2 linked regions of the Homo sapiens genome follow. The protein of the gene in region 1 purifies or fractionates together with the protein of each later gene. This does not show direct contact. Each region holds a gene or a part of one and is shown on either strand. Other genes may lie near its edges.

Region 1 (3,945 bases):
GTTTACCGTTGTCCTGAATTATTTCTAGTGATGAGGCACTATGCTAAGTTGGTGGAGAATACAGAAATGAAGAAGACGTGAAGCCATAGTCCCTTCTGTAAAGAGCAAACAGCTTAGTGGAGGAGAGAGATACAACAAAGTGAACCCTAATCTAAGGCAGAGGGTAATATCCTTTATAGCAGAGATAGGCAATGCTGTGGGGCCAGTGGCTTACCTCAGCCTTACGGAGACAGGAAAGTCTTTTGTAGACATCATTTGACCCAGACTTTGGGAGATTAATAGGAATGGATATAGAATATTCTATACATTTTATACTCATTGATGATATTTTATGTATAATTTTATAATATTTTATTGTACTTATTATAGTATAACATATTAACTTTTTTTTTTTTGGAGACAAGAGTCTCGTGCTGTCACCCAGGCTGGAGTGCAGTGGCACAATCTCGGCTCACTGCAACCTCCGCCTCCCAGGCTCAAGTGATTCTTGTGCCTCAGCCTCCTGAGTAGCTGGGATTACAGGCGTGCACCACCACGACTGGCTACATTTTTTTGTATTTTTAGTTAAGACGGGATTTTGCCATGTTGGCCAGCCTGGTCTCGAACTCCTGACCTCAGGTGATCCGCCCACCTCAGCCTCCCAAAGTGCTGAGATTACAGGTGTGAGCCACCTGCCTGGCTGAAAACTCAGCTTGAATTTTATCCCTTTGTTGAGAACATTAGCTAATCATCAGTTATCAACCTTACATTTGAGAATTAGAGTCTGTTGTTCAACAACTATGAAAAATTGTTGGGAAAAAAGAAGAAGGCCTTGAATCAAGACATGACTGGGGCGTCTCTGAAAATAAAGAGGTTTTTAATATTGTCTGCTTTCCGCCTTTGTGAGCACCTAAGAAGAAAGTCTTTCCTTGAGGAACAATTTCTCTTCTAAACCTGAACTTATCTTAAACATCCTTGTCCTCCTCCCTCCACGTTCCTAACCATGTAGTACAATCTTGTCCCACTCCCTTTGATTAAGTGCAGTTTTCTGTTTTGAAATCCATCCTGTTTTCATCTATATGCTCATTATTTTCTATGCCTCTTGCTCTTTCCCCAGGATAATTTCCCCTGTTACAACAATCTCTTATTTTATCCAAATTTTTCATTCCCCAACTAATCTCTTCTGAGTCATTTGCTAAGCATATTTTTGTTACTTCTGCTTTTCATACTCTACAATGTATGCCTTGTTCTCTATAGGATAACTCACAGCAATATTGTATAATTCATTGTTGATCATCTCATTTCCTAATATCTTTTAACAGAATCTAATACAATGCAGTGTTATAAGTGCTCAAAGGTGTGTTGAATGAATAAGTTAATAAGTTATAGGTTAAGGCTTGCTAGCAAATGCTTCTCTCTACTAATGTTGATTATTCCTAGGCATTTATTTCACTATGATAATTTCTTCAAATGAACATATTCATGAGAGCTTGACTGTTCCTTTTTCTATTGAATATTTCTTCATCACAATATACTGTATTCCTCACTTTCCTAGTACATCGTGTAGCAGGAAAAGAACAAATGTGAAAAAGAATGTTTGGAGCAAAGTAATATATATATATTACCAGTTTTCAATGTGAATTTTTCATATTATAGCAATAAAACCATCTGTGTCATAATATTTCTCTTACTTGGAGAAAAGCACTCGTGTTCATCAAGAAAAGTTTCAATTGAAATTACTAATGAGGTATAATTTACTTGTTCAGGAAAAGTTTAAAGTAAAATCCTCAACATTTTATTATGTTAAAGACATAATTGTTTTTATTTGTATGACATAGAAACTAGCATATAAGAAAGCAAATATTAGCATATAATTTAGATTTTTCCAAAAAAGTTCTAAATTTTAATTTTATAAAATTTTTTTGCTATTAAAAATACAATTACCTCAATTATTTTTAGCCATAATACATTTAAATCGTAATTAACTAAAACCCAAAGTAACTAGATCCTTCAATAGACTAGATAGAGCATCTGTATTTTCCCTTTGAGAAAGAAGTAAATGAAAAGAAAAACATTCTATATCAGGGATTTAGTCAGTAGAGAAATTTGGAGAAAATCTTGAGTGAAATTTGTACAAATGCCCATCAACCCCCCAACCGGAATCACTAGCATTGCTCAGCTGTATGCCTCAAAGGCATTAGCTGGTTCTTTGTTACTTATAATTCATAGAAAAAAAGAGACCTAAGGAAGAGAAAGAGATTGATTCCTTTAACCTGAGAATCTTTCCTTTCATTCAAAGTAAAAAAAAATCTAAACAAAGATTTTTTATTGGGTAAATCTTAAATGAGAAAGTTAAACTCATTATACTACTTTATTTGAACATTTTGCCTAATCAAAAGTTTAACATAACTTTTTTACCAGATTTTGCTTCCAAAAATTGTGCTTTTGTAATAGATGCAGTCTATTTTAATATTAAAAAATCCAATATACTTTTAAATTTTAACAGTAGGAATACATTCTTAAAAAATTGAAAATTATTTTATTATCATACCTGTTCAATTTGCTTTAGTTTTCAGGGGTTGATGAATTTGTAAATCCTTTAAATGAATCAGAAATTCCTAAATTCTTTAACTGAGTCTCTTAAAAATCCACAGTAACTCTGTGTCCAGACAGGGCTGTCTCTTGAATTACTGTAGCAATTTAAGCAAATACAATCTTCTTGGAAAACACTCGGGTTGAATTAAAATTATGTATTTCTTTTCATTACATGAAACTTTGTGGATTCAAATTAAGATGCTTGTGTTCTTGGTCAGATTTATGTGGCTTACTTCTTTCTTTTCCCCTTAATTTTGGTTTGAGGTGTGGCAAGAATTTCCTCTAATGTGAAAGGCAAACAAAACTAAATGAAACAGCATGTACTGATTACTGTTTTTATTTTCATTTTCATGCCAAAGAATTCTTCAAATTAAGGCCCACTGTGACAGGGAACTCCAGAGTCTCAGCAACTTAAGGTGGAACTCAAAATTTCTTTTTTAATTTTTTGAGATGGAGTCTTGCTTTGCTGCCCAGGCCAGAGTATAGTGGTGCAACCTCGGCTCACCACAACCTCCACCTCCCGGGTTCAAGCAATTCTCCTGTCTCAGCCTCCCAAGTAGCTGGGATTACAGGCATGAGCCACCATGCCTGGCTAATTTCTTGTATTTTTAGTAGAGATGGGGTTTCACCATGTTGGCCAGGCTGGTCTTGAACTCCTGACCTCAGGTGATCCTCCCGCCTCCACCTCCCAAATTGCTGGGATTACAGGCATGAGCCACCACGCCTGGCCTGGAACTCAAAATTTCTTGAGTCCCTTGGTTATTCAACACCTAGGTTCATATCAGTACTTCTATTTGTTAAAACAAGAAATCAGGATTAGAAACATAACATTTCGCATTGTTTATTTTTAAAATGCACTTGATTGTCATTGCTTACACAGATTAACTATACGACTTTTCTATACAAAGGCTTACATCTTCATTTTTATCATCATTTTTATCAGCTATCTCATTTCTCCTCTTTTTGGCAGATGTACCCACTAGAATGACTTCTAATATCCTTTCAGATAAAATTAGTCAGTTGGTTGCACTCCAAAGGTGTATCTTCAATTTGCCTGTTTTTACTATTGCACAAAATAATTCTGTAGTATTGAATAAAATGGGATGAAAAGCTTATGTTACTCAATAGCTATTGCCTTTATTTTGTAGATTTAGAAAATTTCTTCATTTCATAGAGCTATCTCTCCTGAATAGTAACAGTTAACTGTTTTTAATGTTTAATTTTTACACTGTTCTCATATTCTAAACAGAGAGTTGACTTGTGTCTTTTGGCAGTAGATTCGGAGTTCATTTTGGGGGGGAATTCTTTTAAGCTTTTACAAACTAATAAGATAAAGTGAATCCTGGAGTTCATTTTGTTTCCTCAAAAAAG
Region 2 (4,033 bases), on another chromosome or scaffold:
TTTAAATCACTAATGATGAAATATTTTAAGACACAAAAGGGTATGAGAAGAAAAGTCATTCATGGAGGTTAACATATTGCTATATTTTGTCATTCTTTTAAGCTTTTTTATTTTTATTTTTTAATTTAAGAACTAGAACCTTCTGGTGGTGGTGCTTAGTGTTGGGGACAGGGTAGAGTTGGAAGAATGATCTGAGGATCCTCCTGAAACACAAGTGTGGGCTGACCTGAGCTTTCACTGCAGCTCCTCCCTTGACACTGAATGAATTACCTGTCATGGGCACCTAAACCTGCACAGCCCAGTCAGTGAGAACAGCCCCCAGAGGAACTTCTACAGCGCCACAAATGAAATAGAAAGAAGCCATGCCTCTTCACTCCCCTGTTCTCTGTAAAATAAAACACCTTGCTATAGTGTCATTTAAGGACCTAATGCCTTCTTTTGTTGAAATATTTTAAAAATTGGGTTTTCCCATCAAATTGTGATTGAGATATCATGAATGTTCTGATTGTGTTGATGTGAAAAGAGAATGAACAAGAATGGGGCTTGGTGTTTTCAGTGATTGCTGTAATTGTTAGCAGGGACATATTCTCCCTTAACTTCTACTCAGACAAGCTCAAAAGGATGAAAACAATCAAAGAGTAACATTGTTGTGGGGATAACCTTGAGTCACTTTCTTTTGTATTTGTATTTGTATTAGAAGAATCATTTGCAGGCCAGGTGCAGTAGCTTACACCTGTAATCCCAGCACCTTGGGAGGCCAAGTTGGGCAGGGATCACTGGAGCCCAGTAGTTCAAGACCAGCCTGGGCAACATGGCAAAACCCCATCTCTACAAAAAAATACAAAAAATTTAGCTGGGCATTGTGGCGCACACCTGTGGTCCCAGGTACTTGGGATGGTGAGGCGGGAGGATCACTTGAGCTGAGGAGGTCAAGGCTGCAGTGAGCCATGACCGTGCCACTGTTCTCCAGCCTAGGGGACAGGGTGAGACCCTGTCTCAAAAAGAATCATTTGCAACATCTGTTCTTTAGCTAGTATTAGCAACAATGATTAGTTTTTGTGGCTCTCCTTGTGACTGAGTGTCATGGGGCCATAGTGAGACTGGTTCCCTTTACTGAGTGCTTGCTGAGTCATTAACCTCAGTTGCTAAGGGCATAGTCATAAGTCCTGTATGCGTATTATATTTCCTCCTTGTAATAACCCAAGATATAGGTGCTGTTACTATCTGTATCCCCACATGAGAAAACAGGCTTGGGGAAAGAGGTTAAATAAGTTGCCTAGGGTCACACCGTGAACAGCAGAGCCATGATTCAAATCTCATTTTGACTGGCTCCAAAGCCTGTGTTCCTAACTAAACCACTCACTAAATGAGGACTCCTGACTGTTGTTATTTTGGTTAACAGAACCATAAAGTAGGAGTTAAGGTTCTAGTTACTGTTTGCTGAGCATTTTCCAATCTTACCTCACTTGACCTCTGTATTCTGAGTTAGGTGAGGCAGGTGGGTGTGCTCCCATTTCACAGACAAGGACTAGGAGGGTCCAGACAAGTAGTGAACTTGCCCAGGGTCACCCAGCTAATGTTGGGTTGGAAGTTGAATCGGGGTCTTTTGAAAATACACCCCATTTTTTCTTCTGTGCTTCAGCTTGATCTCTGACCACCATGGTTGACCTTTAGCCTCACATTTAATTGTAGGGTTAACTCTGTTTCCTCATCTTTTAAATAGGAGCAGCACTACCTGTCTCACTTGTTAGAGATTATAGAGGATTGGCTAGCCATGCACTTTTTAAAAATTCTTACAGAGGCCGGGTGTGGTGGCTCACTCCTGTAATCCCAGCACTTTGGGAGGCCGAGGCGGGCGGATCACAAGGTCAGGAGATCGAGACCATCCTGGCTAACAGAGTGAAACCCTGTCTCTAGTAAAAATACAAAAAATTCGCTGGGCTTGCTGGCACGTGCCTGTAGTCCCAGCTACTCGGGAAGCTGAGGCAGGAGAATCGGTTGAACCTGGGAGGCGGAGGTTGCAGTGAGCCAAGATTGCAACCCCTGCACTCCAGCCTGGGCGACAGAGCGAGACTCCATCTCAAAAAAAAAAAAAAAATTCTTATAGATATACACCATTTAAATACATATGTATTTGTTTGCTGTGAGGCTTTATGATATGAAGTAATACTTTTTTTGTTAAAGATTTATTTACATATAAGTCTTTATTTTGGTATTCTGGCAAATGTATTTGTTTGGTAATCCAAATGGAAGTTGAAGACATTGAGATTTTTGCTGCATGTACTGAGTTGATATTTTTCTAGAGTTGATGTTAGTAGCTAACATCAGCCTGTTCTGGGTTGCTTTGAGGTTGCAGCTGCTCCCTGGTGGTTACCTGTGAAAGGCGCTAACTGGAGACACCCAGAAGGGCCTGACTCTACTATTCTGCACAGGTGAGGCTGGTCCCTCTTTCCCCAGTTGACAAGTTCCATTGCAAAATAGGTACCCTTTGCTCTTGCAAAAGAACTCAGTGGGCATCTTCATCTATAAAATGATAAGAATGACAAACTGTAATTGATTGGTAGGAAAATAAGATGGTGGGAAATAACGTATGTAAAGACCCAAACACTGCACCTTGCTCATAAGAAAGCTCTTAATTAGTGGCCTCTTTCTCTCCTCATTTGGCTTGTCAAAGAGTTGCCTCTTCCCAGTTTCCCTGCTCCTTTTGAGAGGCCTATTCCAAACCTCATGACATGTTTAATCTTTACATTCTGTTTCCATTATTAGCGGGTCTATGAGGAAGAAGACGTCTGTCTTATGGATAAGTAATTGTGTCCTCCCAGGTTGCCACTGTGGAAGCCCAGGCCTTGGGTATAGGATTCACATGATCTTGAGTTCCAGATTGGAATTCTTTGAAGCCACCATCTAACTGGAAAACCACAGAGAGCCAAGTCGGTCAGCAAGTCTCCAGGGTGGCAAGGAAATAATTATCTCAAGCAAAAATAGAGTAACACTTTAAACCCTGGAGATTGAGCAAGGTTTGGGTTAGGACTCAGCATCTCAGCAGCCCAAGAAACCTGCTCTCCTAACCTAATTTTTCAGATGCAGTTTTTAAGTCTCTATTTTTAACAACATTCCTGGTTATTGCCCTTATTGTCGGGGAGCTGCGAGTATAGGAAGTTCAGCTTTAGGGATATAGCCCCTTGACAAATGTCAAACATCTTTCAAAGCCTCAATTGGAAGCCGCTGTGCTGCAATTAGGCTTCGAGGTGGAAAGTCATAGGATTCCTGGGTTTCTCAGGTGGACTTGGCTTCTTAGCTCCCAGTTAATATCTGCTTTCCTGAATTTAGTAACAGAGGAAAATGCTAAGGGAGGAAGGAAAACCCAAAAGGGGAATGTATGTTATCCATGCAGTCAACACCGATGGATCTTCTGAGAAGAGTACCTCTGTTGTCTGTGCTGGAAACAGTGACTGGCACATGATAGGTACTCAGTAGATGTTTGTTGAAAGAATAAATGAAAGGCCTGGTGTAATTACTGTGGGGAATTCAAAGGTGTATAAGGAATGGACTAGGAATTTGTAGCCCACTTTTAAAAAAGTGAGCAGGGAATTCAGCCAAAGCCATCTAGTGCTGGGTGAATGAGTCTATCCCCTTTTTCTCAGTTTTTTTTCCCCAAACTTCCACACCCTTTATACCCTCAGGAAAAAAAGACCGGCCTCTTGTAGAGGAAAAGTAGAAAGACACAGAATTGAAAGCCAAGGGTCACAGGTTGGGTTCTCTGGAAACAGAGGCTGAAACAGAGTTTAGGATGCAGAATGTTAGGGCCCCACACCTGTAGAAAGCAGGGGCCAGAGCAGGACTGGGCAGAGGGAGAAGTCAAAGCCACAATGCAGGTCCAACCAAGCTCCACCCAACACAGGGGCCTCTAGGGTGTATATGGCCCATAGGTTGAGCCACTGTAGGCTGAAATGGCTGGCTCTGTATGCCCCTGCTGTGGTTGGTTAGTCACTGGTTTCTCTGAGATGGCTGTCAGCTCTGCTGAACCCCAAAG

The links.
Region 2: the proteins of OMD (region 1) and SUMF1 purify together in Homo sapiens (affinity purification with mass spectrometry; one large-scale study listed by BioGRID and IntAct). This does not show direct contact.

Annotation. Positions count from the first base shown.
Region 1 is NC_000009.12:92,421,672-92,425,616, forward strand, and holds the start of OMD (osteomodulin precursor), read right to left. Parts: upstream 2,801-3,945; 5' UTR 2,531-2,800; intron 1-2,530.
Region 2 is NC_000003.12:4,418,463-4,422,495, reverse strand, and holds part of SUMF1 (formylglycine-generating enzyme isoform 1 precursor), read left to right. Parts: intron 1-2,349; coding exon 2,350-2,432; intron 2,433-4,033.